Regions from separate parts of the Homo sapiens genome. Here regions 1, 2 and 3 are each linked to region 4. The links come from fine-mapping of genetic effects on gene expression. A gene starts in region 4. Each other region holds a variant in brackets. All regions are shown on one strand. Distances are from middle to middle.

Region 1 (4,000 bases), 35 kb after region 4:
CTTTGTATTTGTGCCAGCCTTTCTAAATGAAGGTGGAGGCCTGATAGGCTAGGAGGATGATCTGGTCATGACCCCGCTGTCCTTAAGTGAGGTTCAGCTGATTGGCACCTCAAAGGGTTCTCCCGCCTTCCTCGCTGTTCCCAGGGTATCCCTCTGCATCCCCATGAACTGTTACAGGCAGGGGAGGGTGTGTGGGCAGCTGTGTCCCCATGTGCCCTGGCATAGGACTGTAGGGGATGTGATTGAACATGTTATGCGGGAGCAGGACACACACATGGAACACAGTGTAATGGTGCCCTCAGGAGCCAGAGAACTCAGCGGAACCATGATGCCTCCTGCTGAAACAGTTAGGGTACAAGATCAGTGTGTTGATTTTTATGCTTACAAAGTATTTCATCATTTTCTTTATTTTTTTTTTCCTCAGCCTGCTGAGGGTAGTAGCTTTTTTTTTTTTTTTTTTTCTCATATAGTGGACACTGTGACGTGATTTTTGCTCCATATTGTGCTCAGGAAAACCTAGGATTAAGTGGGTAGTTGACATTAACTACACATGTAACTAGAAGAAAGAGAGCACACACGTATGAAATACCACCTGTATACATCAAGTAAATGTAAGATGTTATTCTCTTATCCTGAATGAAGGATATTGATGAACCCAGTAGTCCATCATTGTATGTTTGTGTTCCCCATGAGAGGTCACATTCTTCTTTTCTTTTTAAAATAACATTTAGCTGACATTTTAAATATGTCAGAGAGAATGGTAAAATTCTACAATTGGTGGAATTGGATAAATGCAGACCATATTTGCAAACCAATGAGGCATAGAAGGACAATTTTATCTATGTGATTAGTGTATATGTCTTAGGATATTAAAGGTAATCAACAGGCATGGATAGAGGAAGATTTGAACTAAGGATGATATCTTCCGTCAGGGGTAGCTTAATCAGATGGAAATTTATGAAGTATATACTGTGTCTCTAGCATTCATCCCCTATCCCTCTTTATTATGATTATTTGTAACTATGAAACTGCTTTTTTTCCCCTAAATAGAAAATAAAGCCTCCATGAGACTAGAAAGCTGTAATTTTTTTTTAAATTGTAAACCATAGTTTTTTGAAAATTCATGTTTACATTTGCCAACATTCCTACAATAGTATTTTATCCATAGTAGACACTTAATAGGTATTACACAAATGAATGGATATGAGATCTTGGCACCAGTGGCCTTTGAGGTCATTAGAGCATATCTCAAGGTGGCAAATCATGGGAGTAGAAGTAAAGTAGACAGTAAATTTGCATGCAAAAACGAACACACACAAACGAAGAGTCCTTAAAGGAAATGGAAATCCAGGTTTTGGCCTTAGAATTCCTAGATGTCATTTAACGTATGACCAGGCACAAAATCTCTATGGTTCCTAAAACAAAAACAAGTCCAGCTATGTCTGTATCTCTGCCTTTTTCTACCAGGGTTGCCTAGAAGAACCTAGATAATATTGAGTGTGTCCCACATGGGTTTGAGCAACACCCTTGAGTGTGTGCATGAGATCCAAAGAGGACAGATTCAGTAAGTTTATCAAAGTCCCCTGATGTCAGAAGTCTTGAGTCACAGTGCCTTCCCCATCTGCTTAGCATTATATCTACAAAGCTGACTCTCCGCTGTGTTTGAAGTAAGGCTCTGGATGGCAGCCCAGGAGCTGAAATGCTGCTCTGACAGGAGCAGTGTGGCGCTGGTCAACTCAGAGGGATTTGAGTGAAATTATACTCAGTGCATAAGTGAAACCTTACATATGGATGATGGGTGGCACAGTAGGGAGTATGTCTTCCTAAGACAAGTCCCGAAGGAAAGTTCACTGGTGTATCGAGATGTATAAATACAGTCATGCACTGCATAATGACCTTTCAGTCAACAGTGGTGGTCCCATCAAATTATAATGCTGTATTTTACCATACCTTTTCCGTGTGTAGATATGTGTAGGTACACACATACTTCCATTGTGTTACGTCTCCCTACAGTAGTCAGCACAGTCCCATGTTGTACAGGTATGTGGCCTAGGAGCAATAGGCTACACCCTATAGCCTAGGTGTGTGGTAGGCTATACCATCTAGGTTTGTGTAAGTACACTTTATCAAGTCTGCACAAGGACAAAGTCACCCAATGATGCATTTCTCAGAATGTATCTCTAGCGTTATGCAACACGTAACTGTGATGGACATGTTTTAACTTGAAGCATATCCACTGTGCTAGATGTTCACACAGAATTATGGTCCTTTTAGCAACTAAAATAGAATTCTAAAGAAAGACAACCAGCTGGGCGCGGTGGCTCACGCCTGTAATCCCAGAACTTTGGGAGGCCGAGGTGGGCAGATCACGAGGTCAGGAGATCGAGACCATCCTGGCTAACACGGC[A/G]AAACCCCATCTCTACTTAAAATACAAAAAATTAGCCGGGCGTGGTGGCGGGTGCCTGTAGTCCCAGCTACTCGGGAGGCTGAGGCAGGAGAATGGCGTGAACCTGGGAGGCGGATCTTGCAGTGAGCCAAGATCGCGCCACTGTACTCCAGCCTAGGGGGACAGAGCGAGACTCTGTCTCAAAAAAACAAAAAAAAAAAACAACAAAAAAAAAAACATAACCAGAGACACATACAGACAACTGGAAAACAAAAGAAAGTAAAGAAAGTACACTTACTTACACCTACCTCAAGGTTGAGTGCAATGCACATGAAAGAGTTGGTAGGTGCTTTAGACACTAGAGGTAGTGACAGGACCCAAGATTTAGTCGTATGTCCACAGGGGTTTTAACTCAGGTCTGTCTCTTATTACTCTGATCCTTTCATAAGTGATAAACCTTCCTAAAACTCACTTTTCTTAATCTGTAATTCAGTGATGATATTTCCCCTAAAATTTGGTTCTCACAGATGTTTGAGAATCCAAAGAGATAACTACCATCCAGGAGAGCTCTGCACGCCCTTGCTACTGCCCTTCCATTGCTTGGCAGACGCCAGGTTACTAGGGAGCTTATTACAGCCTCTATTCTCGCCTCTAGGGAATGTCATTTTATTTTTGAGGAGGCTGTTTTTAGTTGCCATCCTCAACTTTAGTTGTTCAGCAGGCTCAATCCCTTACTAAATGGGAAGGCAGACATACCACGTGGGCCCCAAATGACCACAAGGCTACTCCTGGTTTTCTGGGTAACTCTCCTGTCCTCAGCTGTGCAGTAGTACTTAGCAAGTGATTTTAAAATTGCTTCTTTGTAAGACCAAAAAAATATATAATTCTTTACAAAAATGCACTTAATTCATAACTAGTTATTAAGGGTTCTGAACATTTATGTTATTTAGTTTACTGCATTTTAATAAACAATCGTGTGCTCTTCCATTTAAGGGATTTGAGAAGGTGGCAGAATGAAATTCATATGACTCTCAAAGTCTACTGAAATCTGACTTTTCAGGAAGCAGTACATTATTTGGTGAAAGGAACTGTCTAAAGTCTCACGTGTTGCTGAGACGCTGTCTCATTTGGAACCTCATGTGATCTCACAACTAAATTGCGCAGTCCCTCTTTTAAAGTCCCAACTTCCCATTTACTCAGCAACATTCATCTTGTGCCAGGTGTTCTGCTGGGTATTGGAGAATTAAAGATGAATAACATGGTCAGATTCTCAAGTCAGGCAGGAGACACAGAAGTATCTTTGAGTAATCTTAGCAGAATGGTACGTGTTCCTGAGACCAGTCTGAGCAACTTGGTGTCAGTCAGAGGGGCCTGGTGCATTAGGGAATCAGAAATAGTCCATGTTGCTGGACTGTTGGAGAAGGGCAGAAGAGTCCAGAAAAGTTAGTACGGTTGGTCACAAAAGGTCTTCGGTCATGCTGAGGAGTTTGGATTTTATTCTGGTGGCAATGAGGCGTCACTGAAAGAATTTCAGCTGAGGCATGATGCTATCAGATGAGAGATTTAGAAAGACAAATGGCAGGTGTGCAGAGAATAGATAAGAGGGATGATGGA
Region 2 (4,000 bases), 27 kb before region 4:
CTGTCACCCAGGCTGGAGTACAGTGGTGCAATCTTGGCTCACTAAAGCCTCTGCCTCCTGGGCTCAAACCATCCTGCCACCTAAGCCTCCTGAGTAATTGGGACTACAGACAAGCACCACCATGCCTAGCTAACTTTTTGTATTTCTTATAGAGACGGGTTTTCACCTTGTTGTCAGGTTGGTCTGGAACTCCTGAACTCAAGTAATTCACCCACTTTGGCCTCCCAAAGTGCTGGGATTACAGGTGTGAGCCACCACACCCCACCATGCTTTTTGCTTTTTAAAAGTAACATTTGTTGTCTTTTATATTTAGAATACATAAGTACTGTAGAAAATTTAGAGACCACAAAGAAGAATAAGAGGAAAACAAAAATTACCCATAACTCACAGCCCAGAAACCAAAACTGCTTAATTTGTGGTATGTGTTTTCTGATATTTTTCTCTGCTTCTGCAAATATTAAAAAAGGGATAATTGTCCATAAAAATTTCTGATGCATTTTTCACTTACTGTATTTTATTATGAGCATTTTCTTATGCCCATAAAGTTCTGCTAAAACATGATTTAACATATGTATAGTATTCCATTGTAATATATGTACGGGAATTTATTTAAATACTTCTCTGTTGTTCAGTATTTAGGTTGTTATAAATCGAGATTACAGAAGACATCTTTACCCAAAAATCTGTGTGGATCTATAGTTATTTTTGTAGGCTAGATTTATAAAAGTGAACTTGCGAAGAATGAATTTTTTAAAGGCCTATTAAGGCATATTGTTTTATTGTGTGATGACTGATCCAAGTTACACTCCTAGCAGCAGGGACTATTAGTGCTTTTTTTATATATGATCCTGGCTAGCATCATTTTTGCCAGTTTGAGAAACAAAAGATAACACCTTTCAAACTCTAAATCCTTCGTTATCTTCATCACGTGTTTCTCTGTTTTGTCATTTGCCTTTTGATTTTGTTTAATTTCTTTATGGTACTTATTTTACTAACTGAGGTTTGAATGTAAATGGTATACATAACCATCTTTTCCTCTGTGGTTTCTTCCATTACCTTTATGCTTAGAAATTCTTGCCTATCTGAGATCAGATATTCACCAGTATTTTCTTTTGGAATTTGTTTGTTTATTTACTATTTGTCTTTTCCCCTCAGGGTTAGCAGACTAAGTCTATGGGGCAAATCTGGCCTGCTGTCTGTTTTTGTAAATAAAGTTTTATTGCCACATAGCCACATTTGTTTTTTTATATTGTCCAGGCCTGCTTTAATGGTGCTAGAGTTGAGTCATTAGGACAGACACTTATTTAAGTCAGCTGATAAAGTCACCTGATAAATATTATCAGCTGACCTAAAATATTTACTAGCTGGCCCTTTGCAAAAAGTTTGCTGTGCCCTGCTTTAGTAGATTTAGAATTTATTTGGATTTATAGTTTAGTTAAGATCCTAATTCAATTTCCTACCCATTTTTCCCAGTCCCATGTTGAATAATCCATTCCTTACTCAGTGGTTTGTGATACTGCCTTTATTATATTTTATGTTCTTTTATATACTAGGCTTTGCAACAATTGGAAGAAAACCCTAAGGCCTTTTCCTTTTTCCCCTACTCCCCATTTTTTTCTTTAGTGTTCTCTGTGC[C/A]CTGCAAAAGCAAGGTTCTTATACAGCTGTCAGTTTAATTGCAATTCAGGAAAAATGAAAACAAGAAATTTGGGGAGAGACATAAATTCTATAATTTAAAGATAGAATAAACAGACTGTACTGCGTAAGTTGCTGAATTAAGTGATCTTATGAGACATATTGGTTAAGATTCAGGAGCTAAGGGTTAAGGTTTAAGTGAGCAGTTAATTATATTTGTAGGTTTGTTTCCTCAGTAAATAGCCTGTTCATAAAATAGATCAAGCTTGTCTTTATGTGGACTCTCTGGGGCATTTTGATGAAAGAAAAATTCCAGCGTGGCAGCTGCATCCTCAAGTAACCTTGATTTGAATCTACTCTTTTTTTTTTTTTGGTATATCCGGTCTTTGCTAACAAAAGAAGTCCCAGCAAAATATAAGCAAAGGTGCTAGCAGAGTTTCCAAACAAAGTCTATTCATGTCTGCAGGAAATATATCTGTACATTTATAGATGAAGAGTACATTCTGGTTTTCCTTTTATACATTATACAAATTCTAAGGATAATTAATTTCCCTCCTTAACTAGATTTTATAGTGTATACGAAGGTTTGGATATGAATATGTGTGTGTGAAGTACATGTGACTGTGTGTGTGTGTGTGTGTGTGTGTGTGTGTGTGTGTCTATAGTTTTTTGGTCAATGCAGTACTAGAATATTGAATAAAGGTGTACTTTACTATTTTTCAAATGTCAATGAACAATGAATGACCTCATCCTAGGATACGTTTCAATCAGCATTTGTTTCTCTGCCAAGGAAAAACACATATCCTAGGAGACTCAAAGTAGAAATGACTTGTGAACAGAAGCAGAGGGACCACTTGGAGCCAATTGCCGATGATAGGTGTTTTCTCTGCTTCTTGAGTAGGTTCTGCCTTTGCAGAGTCTGTGGAGTGAGACTGTTTATGGGATTCTCAGATGCAGTCCTGTATGCTAAATAGTTTTATGGATGTTTGGTATTTCCTGTATATTTTCTAGGCTTAAGAAACAGGTAACAACATTATCAAAGACTCAGTCTTGTAACTTATTATTTCCTTGTGCTTTCTTTATTGTTGAAGAACAACTGGAAGAGAATCCTGAGGTCTTTTCCTTGTTCTCCCCCAACCTCCCATATTTTCTTCAGTTCTCAGACATCCATTGGATGTTTGCCAATTACAGGGTGGTATGATATGAAAGAGTCATAATCTCTGCTCTCAGAGGGCCCATAAGGCTGCCACGTGGGATATGGGCCATGATGGGGGTAAGCACAGGTACCACAAGCACCTACGCAGGGCTCCTTGTAGAAGGATTTAACCAGGTGAAGGAGAAGGAGAGGGACGTTTCTGCAGAGGGAGCAAAGTCCCAAGGAGGGAGAGCTGAGGGCTCCTTGGAACTGCTAGTAATTCCACAGTGCTGGAGGGGGCTTATCAGGCTGTAGGACAATGGTGGGAGTAGAAGGGTGACCAGTGAGGCTGGAGAGGTAAGCAGGGGACATATCATGGTGGGTCTTGTTGGAACTTTATTCCTGTATTAGAGGGAAGCCATTTAGTGAAGGTTTTAAAGAAACATGTTCATGTTTTTAATGAATCTCATACTGTACTTATCCTGCAGGGTGGATAACGGCTTAGAGAAAGGAGAGGTCTCAAGACAGGAACACTAGTGAGGAGGTCATTGGGGGGTCACAGGTGATGGTGGCCTGAAGCAGGTGGTGGAGGAGATAGAAGATTTAAGAGAGTGTTAAATGAGAGATTTGGCAGTTAAATAAGAGACAAGGAGTCAAGAGTGTTGGTATTTGTGCCCTGGGCACCTCCAGGGTGCCACCTGCTGAGGTGGGAGCACTGAAGGAATGGATCAGGAAGAATTGGGAAAGGAGGATTTCAGTTCCAGACATCTTGAGTTTGAGGTTTAGCGCATCACAACATGTAAACCAGTGGGATGCGACTAGTAGGACCATAGCTAGAGTGTGGATCCCAGCACAGACAGATGTCTGGTAATGAAGGATGGAAGGGGATGAGATCTCCTGGTGAGCGTATTCAGAAGGCAAAGAGCCAAGGGCCCTGGAAGGGACAGGAGAAGGAGCTGGGAAAGGAGCCTGGAGCTGAGTGCTCAGGGATGGGGAGAGCCTGCTGTGCATCTGGAAACAGAATCTTAGCTAAAGAAATAAATGCCAACGGCTTGAAGACCTCTGTCTGAGTGTGTTTGTTTAAGCCTCTTGCCTCTAGTTCACCAACACCATCATCTTTACTGTCCGCAGGAACATTTAACAAAATATGTTATGTGCACACCATCCTTTTAGGCACAACAGAATTTCAAGGTATCCCCTTGGCCTGGAAGGGGCTTGTGTAGTAGACTGGGG
Region 3 (4,000 bases), 77 kb before region 4:
GTCAAACAAGCAATGATTGGATAGCCAGGGAAGCTGAATTGCCTGTTATTAGTTTGTATGGTGAAACATCTCACAATTGCACTTTCAAAAGTATTTTTTACATATATATTCTAAAAATGATCAAAACATTTGGCACTCCGTTTACAGGAAAAAAATATATATTTCCAGGGAAACTCTCTATGTTCACTAAACTGGAAAGACCTTGTGGAATTTAAATTTGTCATCTTCAAAGGCTTTGGTATAGAATACAGTAACCAGACCAGGTTCTGTTTCATTCAGCTACAAAGGCACTTTTGTTGTTACCATTCCACGTCCCTGTGATGCTTAGTGCAGCTGATATTTGGTCCTGACAGTGCTTTTGGAAAGCTTGGCTGATTTCTGAAAAAAATCCCAGATTCTTTGGCCTAGGAATTTATCATAGGCCTCAGATCCTGGGTCTAGTCACTGCAGACAGCTAGTATATGTTAAAAGCTGTCTTAGCCTGTATCTAGTGTCTGTCTTCATTTAAGGCTGGAGAAAGGCTGTACAGGCTTATTAGGCACAGCTGTTAGGAACCTAGAGAACAGTTGACAACTGTGTGCAATATTATGGTAATAGTATAACTTATTAATAATATCAATGTAGTCAATATTATCAATGTAATTGAGTAATACAGCTTAGGCCACAAAGAACTGCATATAGTTTTCCATTAAAATCCCAATCCACATTCCATATGCCTCTCTTCCTGCTCTGCCCTGCACAACTGACCCTGTGCGCCTGGCTGCTCCTCTCTTCTAATTTCTCCCATTGCGGTCCCCTCCACAGTTAAGCACCGGCTCGCTTTCTCTTAGGTGCGATGCCCCCTTCCCCGCACTGGAGGCTGCCCAGCCAACGCAGACGTTCCCACTTCCTGTTCACACAGAATCGCCTCTTCCTTTCTCATTTCTCACAGGGAGTCCTCTTTTCCTGCTACCGCATGGGGACACAGATTTTGTTTTTGAAAGTTTGTAGAAAGTTCCTTTAGTGCTAATCTCCAATGGGACCCTACCCTACACAGAGGGCAAGTTATTTTCTTCCCATTCTGTTTTTTGGAACTTTTATTTAATTTCAGACTTATATGAAAAGTCAAGGATAGTATAAGGAAGTCCTGGTGTACCCTTTAACTAGATACCCCGGTTGTTTCAAATTATTATTTTTTGCTAATCCATAGTAGTAGAGTAATGGGCCATTCATTCATATGTTCATTCAAGAAAATTTCATAGCAGAACCTTTGTGCAAAAAAAGTGGATGAGGCAATTCTTTCCCTGCTTCATTTCTACTATTAGCAATTCATGACTGATTTAGCTCTTTGGTTTGTGAAATGGATGACTGAAAACCTCTCCTAAGTTAGGAAAGTAAGTGAAGAAGGCACTTTAAAACTGAGGTGCCATCTTTTTTGTCTTCTCTGTGGGATATTCATTTAAAATTTTTCTCGTAGTAAAGGCAAGCACAGATGGAAGGTGGTATAAGGTTCAGCCTCATCCCTTAACTTCAGCCTGATGGTGCTTGTGATAGTGCTTGATTTGCTGGTGATACTGGCGTAGTTAAGAATCTCCCAGCTTAGGAGAGAGAACTTAACATGGCAAAGGTAAAAAGAGGAGCAGGTTTCATCAGACTATTGTGCTTTATGCTTGAGGCAGGGCAGTAGCAATGGAAGAACTTAGATGTGATTCTGGGCTTATGCCTTCCCTCTTGCTTGCCCTCAAACCCTGTCCAACCAACAACTAACAGCAAACCAAGTTTTTAGATTTATCACAGTTAGGGACTTAACTGCTTTATGTGGACTTGTGTGGCTTTCTCAGCTATTCTGTAAAACCTGCTTTATTACCATTGCTATTATTTCTGCTGTTGTGAGCTCAGTGTCAGTGTCTGGTTGTTAGGATGTACAAAGATTCTGGGTGAGGCTATGTTGGTCTAGAGCTCTAGGTTATAGTGGGCCATGGAAGCCCACCTTTCAAATTTTTGGCGAGGCCACAAATTACCCCATTAAGGGTCTCAGAGCATGGAGAGTAATGTTTTTATGTTTTAATTACTCTAGACCAAGGCTGTTTTTTTTCTAAGTGAGAGCACTAATATTTGTAATTTTGCAGCCATTGGGTTTATAAATATGCCTGAGTAATCCCCATGAACTAGATTTTAGAGTGAGCCACCAGAAGAGTCTCCTCTTTTGAGATGCGGCAAAGAATTGCAGTGTCTTACAGTGGAAAAGGAAGACAGTGAAAAATGATCTATGCAGAAATTCACCCCTGGTTTTGGCTTTTGACTTCTTCATGACTCCCCTTTCTTGCTTACCGTGTTAGGCAGATAATCTTCTTTGAGATGTGGTAGTCAGACTAACTCAGCCCCATCTGCTTTGTGTTTTTTTTTCAATGCAAGATTAACCCTGCTTCCAAAACCTCCTGGTGTTTTCTTGGGAGTAGGAGGGTGAGTGAGGGGAGGTGGAGGGTGTGGGGTGCTT[C/T]GCTCCTCTTGTAATAACCCTCAAGTGTGTGCTATCTGATGGGCCCAGGCCACATGTTGTGCTATCGCTGGGGACCAGGTAACAGTCTGAGGTTTCTTGGTTACAGTAACTGATCCTCACTCCAGGCCCTGGCAGGAAGGAGAACCCTCCTGCAGTTACTGAAACCTGGTTCCCGGTTTTAATTTCTTTAATTCTTTTGTACAAGGGTCTGAGTTACAGAGGTTTCTCCTTGTCTCAGAAAGTTCTTACCATTGGCTTTAAATAAAACCAGGTGGCTTTCTTGGTTCAAGTGGCTTACAGAAAGAATACCTTAGAAAGCAATTTAATTCAATTACATTTAATTAAATTATATTGAATTTGAATAATTAAATTTATATTCTAAGTTTTTTTCTTAGAAGCATAATGAGCTATTTTAGAAATATGTATTAAGGTTGCTGGTTTTTTCCTTCTGCCACAAAACGTGATTTGCATGGGAAATTATTTATAGTAGCTTAGAATTCTGAACAAGAGTGACAAAATTTATCTTCTTTGCTCTCCTGCAAATTTGTATAGGCTTAGGAAATTTTGTCATTTAACAAAGCTCTTGAAATCTCTGTGGCTTAAGTTACTGTGGACATAATTCTTATCTGATTTCAATAGAAAAGGACAGTAGGGATGTGAACACAGTGGCAGCTGGGAGAGGGCGCAGGAGTGATGTTAGTGGTAATCTATTTTATTTTCAGGTGTGTTTAGGAACTGGGCTCCTGGAGACAACCAAGAAATTGGGAACTGGAAGTGGTTTGACTGAAGGAGTAATGGGAGAGACTTCATCCCAACGGCGAATCCCTACTGAGGCCTGAAAAACCTACCATTAGAAATTCATTAGCATCAATAGAGTGGAGAGACAGCCAATGGAATGGGAGGATATATTTGCAAATTGTACATCTGATAAGGGATTAATATCCAAAACATATAAAAAACTCAACTCAAAGTGAGAAAACAACTCAGTTAAAAAATGGGCAAAGAGCCTGGGCAACATAGTGAGACCCTGGTCTCTACTTAAAAAAAAAAAAAAAGAAGGCTGGTGTGGTGGCATGTGTCTATAGTCCCAGTTACTTAGGAGTCTGACGTAGGAGGACCACTTGAGCCCAGGAGTTCGAGGCTGCAGTGAACCATGATTGCACCACTGCGTTGCTCTCCAGCCTGGGTGACACAGTGAGACCCTGTGTCTACCCCCACAAACCTCCCCAAAAAAAAGGGCAATAGCCATTTTTCAAAAGAAGACATACAAGTGGCCAACAGGTATATGGAAAAATGCTCAACATCAATAATCATCAGGGAAATGCAAATTAAAACCACAGTGAGATACCACCTCACACCATGGAACCCTTGGATACGGAGTGTGGTCTGTACTTTGAAATCATTTAGGATAGCAGAATATTTTGTGGAATCTAGGGAGATGGGGAGCTGAGGTCAGGGAGAAGTAAGCTGTGTGCTGGCATTTGTTTACCAGGAGATCCTTCCATCCTACTCCATGGCCAGGCA
Region 4 (4,000 bases):
CAAGGTTGAGAGATTGGGTAGTTTAAAAAAAATTATAGAAGCCATTAATTTATTTGATGGACTCATTGATCCTTTGAGATCGTTACATAATTGATATTCACACTCAGAAGGGTTCCTGGTGTTCAAGTGGCAGAGACCCAGCTTCAGCTTCACTCTTGAAGTAGAGCAGCTGCAGCAGGTGCTAGGAGAGGGAGGCGGCTGTGCGAGGACTGGGTGGCATCTCAGTTCTCCCCACTGCCTCCTCTGAGCCCTCCTGGCTGCGTTCCTTTGTCTGGAAAGTGGGAGACTTTTACCTGTGACTTGTATAATAGTTTATGTTATTTCCCTGGGTAGAGTTCCTCTGGCACCTATTGTTGCTACATGATAACTACTCTCGTTGTTGACTGACTGAATACTGCTGCTGCTGCTGCCGCCGCTGCTGCTACTACTACTACTACTACTACTACTACTACTACTACTACTACTACTACTATTGCTGCTGCTACTGCTGTTACTGCTACTGCTACGGCTGCTGCTGCTGCTGCTGCTTGTTGTCTACTGTTACTAAATCTTCCCTGATGTCCAGGAAATACTCAGAGTAACTAGGAAAAGCTCTGCGGTATCCATGAAGTACAGAGTAATATTTGATCCCCCCTTTAATGTTCATTTCTACATAACTTTTAGACAAATCCCTTAATACCTCTGTTTTAATTTTTCCCAAGAGGTAAAAAAGACTCCACTGTTAAATGTGAGGAAATAATAAAAATACAGACTTTTAGGAACACATATTTTGGGTGCTACTAAACCACCATTGAACCGTAGGTTGGTGATCCAGCTATTTTCCCGTGCTTTTGTGCATCTCTCTCTTAATTTTATTAATTTGTCATTTATGATGTCTGCTCTTCTTGCCTTCCCAGCTAGATGTGAAGTTCTTTGAAGGGAGAGATACTCTACCTTATACTTTTAGTATGATCCTCTCAGCACCTAGTACTGGGGGTACCTTCTGATACCCACACATCTGGACTTAAAGTAATATTCTGTTTAATAAATGCATTTACTATGATATGTGGTATCCCATGAAAATGTTTTGATGACCTCATCTTTCTGGCATCAAATAGTACATAAATTAAGTGTTTCATGCTGTGGTCTGTCATGCGGGGTGAAACTCATTTCCTCCACCTGTATCCACGAGGTGCAGGCTATGGGAACATACTTGCTGGTAGCTCTTCCCTGCTTTAATCATCAGCCAGGCATTTGGTTTTTAACCATAACACAAATGAAAGCATTCCAAAACTGGAAGAATTTTAGAACAAGCAGACAACCTTGCTGTCTCTTAAGCTCCACGAGCTTCAGATTTAAGGTAATTATGAAGGAGTCTAACTGTGACTGGTTTTCTTTTAAACACTGCAGTATTTTGATTCCGATTGATTTGGCCCACGCTGTGTGGAACAGACACAATAAAGCCGGTCTTTATCAGAGAGGCAGTACACTGTGTATTGTTCAGCTTGGAGTTTGTTTTCCTTTGGCCAGCAAGTAGGAGCCTCCCCTTTTGCATGGAGTAGTAACACCCCTGGAGGCTGGCCTTTGCTGTCATGCCTTCCCACCCCACAGGCTCTGCAGACCCAGCCAGCGGGGCTGACCACTTGTGCCTGGGAAGCCAGTTTCCTTTCCTTCCTTGGACCACTGGCATGCCTGTGCCTTGCACGGCCAGGGACTCGCAGCTGTTCCAGTTGCAGACTTTCTGACTTGCGTTTTCAGCCGAGAATGCAGGCTGATAAATGCAGGACAAGTAGTAGAAGTGTCAAAAAGGAACTGGTGATTGAGTCCCCCCTGCAATACAAGGATGCAGCTCAGGGCGAAGTGGAAGCAGAGAGCCCGGGCCCTGTGCCGGTAAGAGGGTCTCGTACAAAGTGTTGCTGTGTCTACCCAATGCTGGGTTCTTATTGTGCGTGTGGACGGGGTTGACGCCTGTTGCCTGTCTTTGATTTCAAAACTTGCTCTGCTTGTCCCTTGTGAACTCCACTCTTTCCCTGTAATATGACTTCGATTCCCCTTTGATTCTTCTTTGTGAAGAAAGAAATGTTGACATTTTGTGGGTGAATATGGTTTCTGGGAGGTTTCTTTGTATGGGACAATTATGTATTGTTCACAATTATGTCCCACCTAGCTGCAGTGTTTGCAAATGTAAACCCAGGAAGCATATTTTAATTGCAACTATAGGGTTGAAAAAAGATGTGCTTTGCAAAATTAAAACCTTTTCTACGTTATTTATGCTATTGAGAAAATGAGGCAGGTCCCATTGGGGGTTTTAAGGAACATAACTGTTGGAAATATTACATAGTTTAGAAAGGATAAAATCACATATGTTCTTCTCACTCATTTTACCAGGAGGTTTGCCTTGAATAAAGTAGGGAAGAACCTAAACTGTGAACCAGCTGATAGAAACGTTTCTGTTCTTAACATCAGCTAAACTCTCAGCATTTGTCTAAAGCCAAGTGCTTTGGTGGACTTTGGAGGGGAGGAATGTGAAAAATGGTTGTGTTGTTATCATCAGTGAGTAGGTTGTGCTTCTCTCGGAATTTCTTCAGTACAATAAAGGCACATAATTTTTTAAGCAAGCTGCACAAAACCACCAACATGCCCTGCAGAGGGGGGACAATTGAGCCTTTCAAATTATCTGCTAAAGAGATTGTTAAACTGATATGTAGTGATTTTATTTAGTGATTTTTTTTTTTCTTTAACGTGGAGGTTCAGTTGATGTTACCATGAAGTGTTTGCTTACTAATTTACTTAATTTTCAATTAATGTCTAAGAATCTGAACTTAAACTTTCCTATAACAGATTTGATTTGAACTGAGTTGCTTTCTTTGTGACTCGTGAGACTGCCCTATATTTTATTGCCTTCAAAACTATATTGCTAACCCTGAACTGAAAAGTTAGTAAAATATCATGGTCTTTTTCACTGCAGATTTTCATCTTAGAGATTTAGGTTTCTTTTCTTCACCCTCTGCTACATTGTTTAGAAATGTAATTCATTGTTCTGGATTCCTTGCTGCCAATATAATAGCCCACTTCTCTGTTGGGTTGCTCACAGGCTGTATGGATTTCACTGCTTAAAGCAGCTGATGTAACTTAGGATTTCTTGGAGGAAGTTGTGTGGTTTAGGTTCCCTTGTGAATATTCTTAAAAATCTTCTGTCAGTGATTCTCCAGCTGTGTAGAAATATTTGTCTACAGGACTGAATACACTGTAGAAAGATGCTATGCAATTTTTTTTTTTTAAGCACACAAGTGACTTCTTAAACTTACTTCTCTTTCTAGTGCTCAAGAAATTTGCCATTTATGTCCTAGCTATTTGTTTAGGTAAATCTCACTCCAGGCAGTTCCTCTGGGGGTCTTTTTCCACTGCAATGGATAAAGCTGTGCTGGCTACAGCTGCATTTGGTGGGAACACTTGTCAGGGCCCAGCAGCTTGTGGCAGTGTGATCTCAGCTCTGCGCACCTGCAGAGAGGGGTGAGGGAGTGAGGAAGCCAACAGTGATACCAGAAGTTTTTTCTTATCGGGCAGTGTTTCTCTTCTTCCAGCAGGGTAAACAAGATAAGAAGAGCTAATGTCAGATCAGGGAAGCAAGGATATTTCAGCAGGGCCTTTGCCGAGGGCAGATCTCTTACCTGTGGCTGTTGCTGCCCACTGGCAAACAAGAGTTCAACAGACTGCTGGAAAGGCAACTTGTTTCTCAAGATGATTTTTCAGAAGGAGGCAGACACCATTGTGCAACCTGTTTGTGGCAGTACTATTCATTGTTCGAATGTCAGTGGCCCACGGGCTTGGTAAGAATCCCCAAGACTGTCTATCATTTGAATGCATTATACCTAGAGACGTTTAAATGTAGGTAACATGCTTTATTCAGGAGGTAGCATTTTGAAATAAAGTTTTGCTGTTTTTAGTTATGTACAGAAACAGTCCTTGGGGAAAAATATTACATAAATTAAAACGGATAAAATTAATTAATGCGTGTAGT

Direction of the effects. Positions count from the first base shown, and alleles are read on the strand shown. Sizes are in standard deviations (SD) of each study's normalised expression. Not every link is listed here.
As copies of G replace A in region 1, the expression in sun-exposed skin of the gene that starts at base 1,589 in region 4 goes down (small effect, 0.18 SD a copy in GTEx).

What was found. PIP is the estimated chance that this variant, and not a neighbour inherited with it, causes the effect. A credible set is the group of variants that fine-mapping cannot tell apart.
Region 1: its variant is the best candidate, but not a certain one, in a credible set for the expression of DOCK9 in sun-exposed skin (GTEx, PIP 0.59).
Region 2: its variant is the best candidate, but not a certain one, in a credible set for the expression of DOCK9 in fibroblasts (GTEx, PIP 0.74).
Region 3: its variant is the best candidate, but not a certain one, in a credible set for the expression of DOCK9 in whole blood (INTERVAL, PIP 0.78).

Annotation. Positions count from the first base shown.
Region 1 is chr13:98,940,844-98,944,843 of GRCh38, reverse strand. All of the region lies in intron 2 of DOCK9 (dedicator of cytokinesis 9), which reads left to right. Among named protein-coding and RNA genes, the nearest start is that of DOCK9, 35 kb to the left of the region's middle. The variant A/G (reference allele first, on the strand shown) is at 2,408.
Region 2 is chr13:99,003,076-99,007,075 of GRCh38, reverse strand. It overlaps a transcript of DOCK9 not described here. Among named protein-coding and RNA genes, the nearest start is that of DOCK9, 27 kb to the right of the region's middle. The variant C/A (reference allele first, on the strand shown) is at 1,636.
Region 3 is chr13:99,052,299-99,056,298 of GRCh38, reverse strand. It overlaps a transcript of DOCK9 not described here. Among named protein-coding and RNA genes, the nearest start is that of DOCK9-DT, 32 kb to the left of the region's middle. The variant C/T (reference allele first, on the strand shown) is at 2,477.
Region 4 is chr13:98,975,653-98,979,652 of GRCh38, reverse strand. DOCK9 (dedicator of cytokinesis 9) reads left to right here and starts at 1,589. Exons shown (of 53, transcript NM_001366683.2): 1 at 1,589-1,869. The coding sequence starts at 1,744.